Linked DNA regions of Homo sapiens. The protein of the gene in region 1 interacts with the protein of each later gene in a pairwise test. Each region holds a gene or a part of one and is shown on either strand. Other genes may lie near its edges.

The links.
Region 2: the proteins of CEP95 (region 1) and HMG20A interact in binary tests that used the Homo sapiens proteins (3 or more experiments, as listed by UniProt).
Region 3: the proteins of CEP95 (region 1) and GOLGA6L9 interact in binary tests that used the Homo sapiens proteins (3 or more experiments, as listed by UniProt).

Annotation. Positions count from the first base shown.
Region 1 is NC_000017.11:64,530,914-64,534,662, forward strand, and holds part of CEP95 (centrosomal protein of 95 kDa), read left to right. Parts: intron 1-12; coding exon 13-105; coding exon of another isoform or gene 106-109; exon of another isoform or gene 110-976; coding exon 977-1,109; exon of another isoform or gene 1,110-1,925; coding exon 1,926-2,095; intron 2,096-2,203; coding exon 2,204-2,278; intron 2,279-3,671; coding exon 3,672-3,749.
Region 2 is NC_000015.10:77,481,408-77,485,156, reverse strand, and holds part of HMG20A (high mobility group protein 20A), read right to left. Parts: exon of another isoform or gene 2,188-3,749; 3' UTR 1-2,187. UniProt on the Homo sapiens protein: Plays a role in neuronal differentiation as chromatin-associated protein. Acts as inhibitor of HMG20B. Overcomes the repressive effects of the neuronal silencer REST and induces the activation of neuronal-specific genes.
Region 3 is NC_000015.10:82,432,798-82,436,546, reverse strand, and holds part of GOLGA6L9 (golgin subfamily A member 6-like protein 9), read right to left. Parts: exon of another isoform or gene 3,731-3,749; coding exon 3,650-3,730; intron 2,986-3,649; coding exon 2,898-2,985; intron 2,514-2,897; coding exon 1,945-2,513; intron 1,679-1,944; coding exon 1,618-1,678; intron 581-1,617; coding exon 478-580; intron 269-477; coding exon 136-268; 3' UTR 1-135.

The DNA.
Region 1 (3,749 bases):
TTTCCCCTTTAGGCGTTTACTGAAGCATTTGAAAGGGAACTAAGAAGACATAAAGTTCAAGAGAATATTGGACCTCTAAGAATACATGAGAAGGAGGAGGAAACAGTGGGTAAAAGTCTCCACTGTAATAAATGCCATTTGATCAGATGAGTGGGAAGTACAAAGATGATCTTTTTAAAAGAAGAAGGGGCCAACAGGGCCTTAATCATGAGCTCTTTAGGAAAAGGCAGGATTTCATGTCATGATACAGGACTTGCTTATTAATAAGGCATTCAGGTTGCTAAAATATGACGAGACATGGTTCCAAAGAAAAGTAGTGTTTTTCCGCTACTTAAAACTTCCCATCAGTTTTTAAGGGTTTATTTGACTTAGCAGTTCACCAGGGGCTTAAAAACTACTCTAGGCTGACAAAATTAAAGAAGAGTAAGAGAAGACAGAACATCCTAGTTGGCTATAGACCTGGTTGTAAGAAACCCAAAACAGAAGTTTTCATTGCCTTTCAAAAGAATGGTTACAGAAACTAAGTGAAATCATGGGGAAAATGCTTATGCTAAAATATTCATGAACAAAACAGGATATAAAGTACAGTATGGTTACAACTAAGCATACTGCATAGTTGCCTGAGAATTTTTTAAATCTACATGGAAAAAGAGAAGTACATTGAAACATTAATGGTTAAAAAAAAGATTAATAGTGGTTGTATTTAGGGTGTGGGACTATGGTGACTGAAACTTGAAAAAGATTCAGTGCTTTTTCAAATTCCAAGGGATGCCAGAGGCCAAAAGGTGCATTTAACTTAGAGTAAATGAATATTAACCAGATTTTACAAATTTGAAGTAAGGTGGTTTGGCTTACTGTTAGCTAAAAAACTAAAAAACTACCGTTAGCTGTTTTTGTCAGTATGTAATATTTAAGATGATGTATGAAAGAACTGTTAGACCTTTTATTTTTATTCTGTTTTATATCTGCTTCTAAGGAAAAAATATACAGAGGAGAAGCTGTTCGTAAAGGAACTCCAGAATGTAGTCAGCCCTGGAAGATTTACTCTAGAAAAACCACAACGCAGAGTCTAAGAGGTGGCCTCCCAAAGCCAAATAAAGCAGTTCCAAGTAAGAACCACAGAATTGTACTTTATGGAAAACTGGCAACCTTTGAAAGCATGTGCAACATTCCAAGGACACAGCACTGAAAGCTAACATCCACCAGTTAGCCGAAGAAAGTTTTTTTTTTTTCCCAATCACTGCCATGTGGCTGGTTTTCCGTAGAGGGCTAAAACTCTTCAATAAGGAAGTACTTCAGGGAGGCCTATATATTGGCACCCAAGGAATGCCAGGACTGCCACCTGCTGCTCCAGCGTTAGCCTCACTCGTGTGCTTACTCACTTTGACTGCCTTTTTGTCTATTTCTGGGAGGTTGGTAGAATGAAAGGGATGCTCCAAGGCAAGCAGATGGCCTGTCCACCTCCTATATATTGACAGTGCCAATGAGTGTAGAGTCTTGTTACAAGAAACAAAGTCATGAGAAATGCCAGGCTTCCTGTTACACCCAAAGACTGCTGGCCCTCCTACTCTATCCTTTAGACCAGAAACTTTTTCTTCTAAGCACTTGCCTACCGGGAAGGTTGAGGAGTCTTGTTTTACCGTACGTAGAGAATCTACCCACAGGCACTGAAGCGGCTGAGCAATTAGGATGGACTTCCCAGGACCAGCATGGCATCAATCCAGAACTATTGAGCTTATTTTTATCCTTACCAGTAGTTGGCTTACTCCAATCAGAGGAGTAATGCAAATTATTATAAGTACATTTAGAATTGTTCTTTTCAGGATCAAAACCACATCACTTACATAAGCTTTGATCTACCAGGGATGTTGGATGACAGTTCTTGTCCACGTCTCAGATTAAGAACATCTTATTTTACCTTGCAGTGAAAGTAAGTGAACACAGTCTCCTGCCCCTTATGCTGGAGCAGTTTCCGTTTCTTTATGTTTCTGGCCCAACACTAAGCAAAATGTGGAAACAGCAAATTGCACAGGTTGAACAGCTTAAGAAAGAAGCATGTAGAGAAAATCGATCAAAGAAGAAACTCCAAGATGAAGTAAGTTACTGTCAGTCTTAAGCATAGGAATTTAAATGAGAAGAGCTTATCCTTAAGAATTTAGTGAACAGCATTATTAACCTACTTAACTTCATGTCCCCCTTCAAGATAGAAGAAGCCCTAAGAAGGCATGACCTCCTTACTACCCTTGTCAAGAAAGAATATGAACATAACAAGAGACTGGTATGTCAAGAGCAAGTTGGGTATTATAATTCTGAATTTGTTATATTCATTCCCTTTATCTGTGCTAGCTGGGCAACAGTTGCACAGACCCTTAACCTCTTAACACCTGCATGTGGAAGTGTTGCCTAGGTCTTTAACCAAAATTGATAGCCCATGCCTGTAATCCCAGCACTTTGGGAGGCTGAGGTGAGAGGATCACTTGAGACCAGCCTCAGCAACATAGTGGGACCCTGTCATTAAAAATATATATATGGGTGTGGAAAAAATGAGCCTGGCATGGTGGCATTTGCCTGTGGTCCCAGCTACTTGGGAGGCTGAAGTGGGAGGATCACTTGAACGTGGGAGGGCGAGGCTGCAGTGAGCTATGATCTTGCCACTGCACTCCAGCCTGGGTGCCAGAGTGAGACCCTGTCTCAACAACAACAAAACACACAAACCCAAAATGGGCAGGAGGAAGAGCTAGGTACTTTATATACACAGTTTCAGTTAGTCTTCATAGTAATGTATTAGAGATGTTTTCTATGAAATGAAAACCCTGAAGCTTTGAGATACTAAGTAACTTGCCCTGGGTCTCACTGATAAGCAAGGGACACAGCTGAGATTTTAATCCAGTTCTGTCTGTGGACTCCATGGACCCATCTAGGTGCCAAGCAGCTGAACTTAGTGCTGTTTGCCCTCTCCCATCCTTCTCAGGTCCCAAGTAGAGAGCTCCAGGATTTATCAGCCTCCGTTATAATTTTGACTAGGAATTGTGCTTAGAGAATTACGAAGGGAGAGGATGGAGGTCAGAAACAATCTGCCAAAGGGAGAGATTTAAAAATCTTTGCCTGAGTGTGGAGTAGAGATAAGCCATGAGAACTGTAATACTGAACAGTTCCAGGAAGACATCTCAGGAACTGCAGATGGTACTTTCCTGTGGAGGGAAAAAACACTAGTATCTGAAACACCTACATAAGAGGCTTTATGTACATGACCCCATTTTATTTTCACTCCTTTGTCAGATACTGTCTAATTTCCTTAGTTTTTGCCTAAATGCTCCTGGCAGCTCAGGCTCTGCTTGAAAGTCTGGGTGTGCCATTTTCCTACTCCTTGTGAGGTGGCATCTGGGCCAGCCTTGTTAGCAGCTTCCTGGTGGCATGGGGAGTGAGCCCTCAGTTCCACAGGAGTGCCCAGGATCACTGCTGCCCTCTGCTGCAGTGGGGTGTTATTGGAGCTGCTCTTCAGATTGAGGTGATAAAGCTGCCAAAGGCTGAAGGGCTTCTGGGGCCACTGGCCCCCCACACGTGACATACTGCCTGAAGACATCGTGATGGGGAGTGAGGCAGATGAGAACGCTGGAATCTGCATTCCTCTTGTCCTTACCCTTCTCTTCCCTCCCCTTTCCCTTTCTTAGCAAGACTTCAAGGACTGCATTCGTAGGCAAAGGTTGACCCAATCAAAGATAAAAGAAAATCGACAGCAAATCGTTCGT
Region 2 (3,749 bases), on another chromosome or scaffold:
TGAGTAGCTACTGGGAAAGACAGCATTTCAGAAGCAAGCTGCTTATTTTGTGAAAATGATTTCATACTGTAGGCTCTCTTGAAATCTCATGCATTCCTGAATATGCAAATGTTTCAAGTCACTGTCAAGTGTCCCATCTAGAGTCAGAAGAATGATGATCCTGGACCATGTTATGGCCTTTTCTGGTCACAAAAGCAGTGCTAGCAATGCTGCACAAAACTGAACACAAATGAGAAACAGAAATATGAGGAGGAAGGAAGACAGGACACAAAGCATCTGGCAGAAGGAAAAAACAAAACTCCAGAATGGGCTCTGGATGTCCTTCTGCCATAGACAGTGAGTTCTAGCTTGGGCTTTGCAGACAAGGAGTCTAAGAGAAGTGGCAGAAATAGCAGATGATGGCAGGGAAATAGGAAAATACAGAAGAGCAAGAGAACTGGCTAGGTTTATAGCAATAGATAATAATGGGGTCTTATTCTAAAAAATTGCCAAGTGATGGTATGTGGGTTTCAGCGCATGGATATTTGATATATGTTCATATAAGACATTTTAAAAACAGATTTTGTTGCTGTTGTTTTCCTTTGGACTAATAAAGAAAACAGGCAAGGAGATGCTGAGAAGACAGGATGGTGTAGCAACATGACAGGTAGTTCTGCCCTATGCCCTGACTTATGGGCATACTATGAGAGGGGCCGCACTTCTATCCACCTGCCTGCAGTGGTGTGGGGCCCAGACAACGGGCTCTGCTTGCTCTGCCTTTGGTTCCAAAGATCTCAGCTGTAACCTTTAGCCTTGTGCTCTGCAGTGTCAAAACAAAAACAAAAACAAAAACAATGAACAACCAAAAAACCCTGAGGTAAGAATCAGAACCTCTCTTTCCTTTTGCTGTTAAAGGAACCAGAAACTGCTAGGCGTGATGCTTGAGCCCAAGAGTTGTAGGCTGTAGTGTGCTATGATAGCATCTGTGAATAGCCACCGCACTCCAGCCTGGGCAACACAGGAAGACCTCATCTGTAAACAAAACAAAACAAAACAAAACAAACAAAAATGAACCAGAAAGTCCTCTTTACTTATGCTGTTAAAGAAAAAATCACTAAGGAGGGGGAAGGAAGGGAAGCCTGTCTTCCTCACATGGATTCAGCAGTTAATGGCTACAGAAGGAAGACAAAGGACATGAGAATTCTTCCTTGCTTTTTTTGTGAGCTCAAGTGACTATTTTGAATGATATTTCCACCTATCTAGATCTATGAATCATTACTCCTAAAGAAGACAGGAATTCCCTCAGTTTTCACTTACAATAAACTTAGGGCTTTGTACTCTTTCCCTTTCTCCTCTGTTTACAAGTGACCTTTTCCTCAGCAAAAATGCTCCACAAGACATTGTCAACAGATGGGAACAGAAGAGCCTTGCTGGGGCTGGGACTCCATGTCTGTGCAGGAGCAATGCTTAGAAAACAGCAGGCAGTACCAGTGAGGAAGGAAAGAGCATTCTCCTTTAGGGCAGCAATCACAAAGCCACACTGAGGGCTGGCACCCACTGAGCACCGTGTGGGGTAGGAAACACAGCCTTGCTCCACAGGGCACTGTCAGCAAGAAGCTCCTTTCTTTGGAGTCACAGCAGGGCAATGATGGGAGAAGACTGGGCCTGTCCAATGCAAGAAACTCTCCTTCAGAACCTTGCTGAGCAACCAGTTAGTCCAGAGGTCAGAAAATGGAGATGTATAAATTGGTGGGGGCCAAGGAAAGCAAAAATAACCCCCAGAGGCATTTAAAAAAGTGACAGCTAGGTAAGAAAACTGGAGCTCCACTGATAAAAGGGTCTAAGCGAAATTACAATGAAAAGTCTTCCTTTCTGCAGCAGCAGATGTCAGCATCCGGGTCACCTAGTAAGCTGAAGATATGCAGATCCACTTTAACAGAAATGGAAATGGTAGGAACCTGAAGACCCGGGAGAGTGGCTGTACACCTTCAAAGCTTCACATAAGGACAATTCCATAGGAAGCTCATATACATGTTGCTGCTCCCTCATTTGGCTTCCTGGGGTGATGGCCTTTCACTCACTGATAATTCTTTCACAAGCAAAGGGATCTGCACTCTTTCTCTGCCCCCACTCAGTTCAAATTTCCATGGATGGCTTCTCATTCCTCACAAGTAAAAACACTTATGGAACATCTTGGAGTTCTAAGACCTGTAGAATCAGGAAAACAAAACAAAACAAAAACAAAAACAAACAAGGAAAATAACACCAAGAAAGTAAGTATTGAATGGAAGGGGTTAGCGCTATGGATTTTAAAAATGCTTTGGTTTCATAAGCGTTAAAGTGAGTGCAGGGTGTATGTAAACTGAAGAACTCATAAAGCTGTAAGCAGGCAACCTCATTGAGATGTTTTACATAACATTTCAATGAGAAACATGGCCCTGTTCCAGTTCAGCAACAATGGGAGGTAGGAAAATCATCAGCTAAACACAGAAAAGCAACTATCAGGGACAAACCTGAGGAGGGAAAATGAGTACCCTACTTTAGTCTGAAGAATGTATGGTCAATCAAAACCAATTTTCTTCAAGTGTTAACTAAGGATATCTGCATGTATAGAGATGTATTATGTGCATATAATCAAGAACATTTCTCATATTAATAAAAATACAGTCACATAAGATTTTTTTTCCCTAAACTCAAACAGCCAAATATTATCATTGAAATCAGGCAACATATGCATTTTAATAGTTTATATAAGGTAGTCACCTTTCAACTTAAAATCACCCTCATGGCCTCCTCCTAGCTCCACTTGTCTCTAGGTACTACTCAGCTACAAGAAAGGTGACAGACAGGTAGGGTAATTCTTCCACTGTATATTTATCAAAATAATTTTAAAATGAGCTAAAATTCTATAACATTATAATTCCTGGATTACAATTTTTATCTGTTTACTTCCTATGTATCTTAATGCTCTATTTCAGGATTTTTTAGTGCTTTCCCCTTCCCCCATCCACCTCTTCCTTAGAGCAATGTTTTAGAAACCCAGTGAATGAGAGAGTTTAGATATCTGTGGTTCTAGTCTTGGATTCTGTACTCATCTACGCAGATATTTTCAAGCAAGATGTTTCTCCTCTCTGGGATTCAGTTTCTTCATATATAAAATGTTAGATTTCTAAAGGTCCCTAATATGCTCCTCTGAAACTTGTAGACCATTAGCTTCCCTTCACTCACTGGCTCCTGACAGTGGATGAAAACTTTGCCAAACTCTTGTCAGAGTAATTAATTGCATCATGAGTGCTGGGGACATCAGCCTCGCTGTCTGTACATATTTGTATAATGAGGCCAAACCAGTATTAATCACAGTCTTTGTAATTGTTTCCTTTGACAGTTTTGGGGGTGTGGGGAACCATCTATTGTTAGTTATGTTTGCATGGCTAGACTGTAAGAATCTGTAGTAATATAACAGTTCACACTTTTAGCTATTTTTTCAGGGGCAAAATATTTGTAGGTTAAAATCAAGGATAATAGTAATATTCTAAGTTTTCAAAGACTCATCAGAAAACAAATAATATAGTTTATACTCTTGAGATGAAAAAAGCTTTAGGAGAGTCTTACTGGCAAAATGCTCAAAATGGAAAACCACTTTTGGGTCAATACTTAATTAGCTGCCCTGTATCTATGTGAAGAGACACGATGTTATCAATTAATGTTTTCTTTCACAATCTTCCACACTGTTTCTCCCAGCTCTCACTTTTCAAGCCTACAAGAGTGCT
Region 3 (3,749 bases), on another chromosome or scaffold:
AACACAAATAAATTTAAACTATAAATTAGAAACACAAACATAAGTGGCTCTAACATTCAAATGAAGTAAATGAATTGTGTAGGATATTAACCCCTTAAATGTTTTGTTTTTTTTTTTCAATTTCTTGACCCGCTCTTAGATGATGGTGATGTTTAGCTCCCTGTTCTCGGCAGCCCGAAAAGAATGGCATGCAGCCTCTCCTGCTCCTCCTGCCGCCTCTCCTGTACCAACAGCTTCTCCACTCAAGCCTGGGTGCTCCTGGGGAGTCCTGCATTAGAGGAAGCAGCTGCTGGATCTGCTGTGCAGTGGGGTTGTCATGGGGGAGAACCCTCCCTGTCCTCTCCCGGTGCAGCCTCCATGCTATCAGTGAGGCTCAGCTCACTAAGATCTTCAGAGAGAGGGAGGGGGTGGGAATCTGGGCACAGTGCGAGCCTCCCCTGCTCCTGCCTGCCCACCCCGCCTGAGGGCTCTACTCACCACCCTGCTTGTCCGCACATCCAAGCTCCTTGTGGGACTGGGGCTCCAGCTACTGGTCTGGCTGCTGCTGCAGACTCGGAGCCTCTTGGCTCTTCAGCTCCACCTGCCGGAAGACCCTGGGCATGAGGACATGTGGTGGCTGGCTTCCAGATTCCTGGCCCATTAATAGGGTAGCGAGGGCACTGTGGGGCTCTGTGGCCTGCCCAGGCCCCTGGCCCCTTGCTCCAGGCCTAAGAGACTGTCTCCCTTGCTTAGAACCCCATGCCTCCTTCCCTAGCATCAAATCTCACGTCCTTTTTCCCAGCATGTAAACTGTAGGCCACAGACTGGTGGAAAAGCAGGCGGAGCCAACCACCATCTGCTAAGTGTGCTACATGCCTAATGTTTCCACGTATTACCTCATTTAATCCTCAGCACCTCTGCAAGGAAAAGGCTAACTTCCTTTTGAAGTTAAAGAAACAGAGACTTAGAGATGCAAAGTAGTTGAATTATGACCAGTGGAACCGAGGCCGGAATCCAGTTTGAATCTAAGGAGGCTTTTTTGTTTTTCTGTTTTGTTTTGTTTTGAGAGAGTGTCACTCTGTGTCCCAGGCTGCAGTGCAGTGGTGCAATCTCAGCTCACTGCAACCTTCATCTCCCGGGCTCAAGTGATTCTCGTGTCTCAGCCTCCTGAGTAGCTGGGATTACAGGCATGCACCACCAGGCCTGGCTAATTATTATTATTATTTTTAATTTTAGTAGAGATGAGCTTTCACCATGTTGGCCATGTTGGTCTCAAACTCCTGACCTCAAGTGATTGTCCTGCCTCAGCCTCCCAAAGTGCTGGGATTGCAGGCATGAGCCACCACACCCGACATAAGGAGCCTCTTATACCACTGTCTCTTCCTCTGTGATTGGGGGGCTCCATGCCTCTAGCTGGGATGATGATGTCCAGACCTGGGAGGACCCCAGGGCTACCCACCTCTAAAAGTCAGAGGGCAGGAAGCAAGAAACAGTCATAGGACTGCCCCGGAGGGTGCTGGGGTCACCTGTCCCCAGGCTGCAGCTGCCTGTGGCCTGGCACCTCCCCTCCCCAGAGGCTGGTGCCCGCCTCCCACATCTTCTTGGATGGGTCGGAGGTTACAGTCTCTTTCAGCTCACCCGACTTCTCCAGCTCCTTTACTTGCTGCTCCAACTGCAGTGTGCTCTTGTTCTCGTTGTTCTGGACAGAAAGAAGCAATCAGTGGCCACCCACTAAAACTGGAGACCCCAGAACTTAGTGTCTGCCTCCCATGGCACCGGGAAGGGTGGAGGCAGGTTAGAAAAATATCCCCTCTCTCCCACAGCCATCAGAGCAGGGCTCTGGCTCACAGATGCCTTTAGAAGTACCATTTCATGTGAAGGCTACAATGCCCCATTTTACAGGTGGGGAAACAAAGGCCTTGAGGGCTAGGGAAGAGGGCAGCCTCCCCAGGTGGGGCAACGCACCAGCTCCTCGAAGCCGCTGCGTGGCTCGGCCCGCTGCTCGTACAGGGCTTCCCACCCCAGCTCCAGCATCCTCTCCAGCTCCCGCAGCCTCTCCAGCTCCCGCAGAGTCTCCTGCTGCCACAGCCTCTCATCCTGTTGCCGAAGCCTCTCCTGCTCCAGGAGCTCCTCCACCTCGTCCAGCAGCCTCTCCCTCTCCAGCAGCCTCTCCTGCTCCTCCTGCCGCCTCTCCTGTTCTAACAGCTTCTCCACCTCTTCCAGCAGCCTCTCCTGCCCTGGCAGCTTCTCCTGTTCACACAGCCTCTCCTCCTGTTCACGTAGCCTCTCCTCCTGTTCACACAGCCTCTCCTCCTGTTCACACAGCCTCTCCTCCTGTTCACGTAGCCTCTCCTCCTGTTCACGTAGCCTCTCCTCCTGTCTCCTGTTCAGGAGACTCAACATCTGATTGTTTTCCACCTCAGCCTGGAGCTGTCTTCCCACACTCTCTAGCTCCTTCCTTAGGTGGTTGGTCTCATCTTGTAGCTGCTCCATCTTAGATGGCCCTGCTGGGGGCTGTGGGGCCAGGGGTTCAGCTGAGAAAGCAAGCAGAGAATAAGGGCCTCTGGATTCTCAAAAAAAAAAAAAAAAAATCCTCCCTTTGGTGCACAGCTCCTCCTCTCAGGCTTCCCAAACTTGGCCTCACTGCTAATGACTCCTCACACCCGGATGGTAGACAATCTTCCAAGTCACTTTCAGATAGAGAGCACTGTGGGTGGCTGACAATGGGCACTCCTCCCTCTTTACTGATGGGGACACTGAGGCTCATGGAGATGACAAGACTTGTCCTCCCCTGGCACAGACCTCTTTCCCTCTGCCTCAAAGCCCTTCCATCCACCCACCTCCCTGGGGCATTCTAAGTCACCCCCACAGCCCTCTAATGCCAGTCCAGCTGCCAGGTCATGCCAGCCCCATCTTACCCGTCTGGTTTTTGAGTTTGAACAAGCTCCTCCCAAGCTTCTGTACCAGATGTATCTCATGCTTCTTCTCCTCCTTAGATGTGCGAACCTGCCCAAAGCAAAGGGGGAAAAGGGTACTGGAGGGAGGGGCTGGTGAACGTCCAGAGACAGAGTTTGAGAAAGGCCCACCCCCCTTCTGCCAGTTTGTGATTTAGAAACGTGCATTCATTCAACAAACATTTACTGAGCATGTACAGGCCAGGTACAGTTCTTCATAGCAGAGATATAAAACAGCAAAGGACAGACAGGAGCCCTTCGCCCTGAGCTTTCCATTCTAGGGGCCTTTAAATCTCTGACTTTCAGAGCTAACCGAGACCTTTGATACTCTCTACCTCCTCCAGAAACACGAGCATAAAGAGGAGAGATGGCTTGTCCAGACTCAAAAAGCAAATTAGGGACTGAGGCAGGGCAGGAATATGGACCTCTGACAACCAGTCAGGCTAGTGCTTCCCAGAGAGGTGACAACCCCAGGGCATGTGTGGCAAGGACTAGAGCAGGGGTGTCTGGAGAAGAGAGAGTCAGCAAAGAGGGCAGTGCAGAAGAGCCATGCTGCATGTTCTGTGCTCTGGGGTCCCTCCAGGTGAGACCTGGGTGCCCAGCTCCCCATTTGCCCTTGGCATCAGGGGCCCCTAGCCCCTTTCTTCAGGGCCCCAAGAGGAAACTGGAGTCCAGGATTGACCAGCTGTAATCAGGGGACCCCACTGGACTCTTACCAGTGAATTGATGTTTTCAGTGAGTTGACTGATTATTGCGGAGCTTGAATCCAGGGCTACTGCTAGTTCTTGGTACTGGCTCTGAGGTGCATGCAGAGAG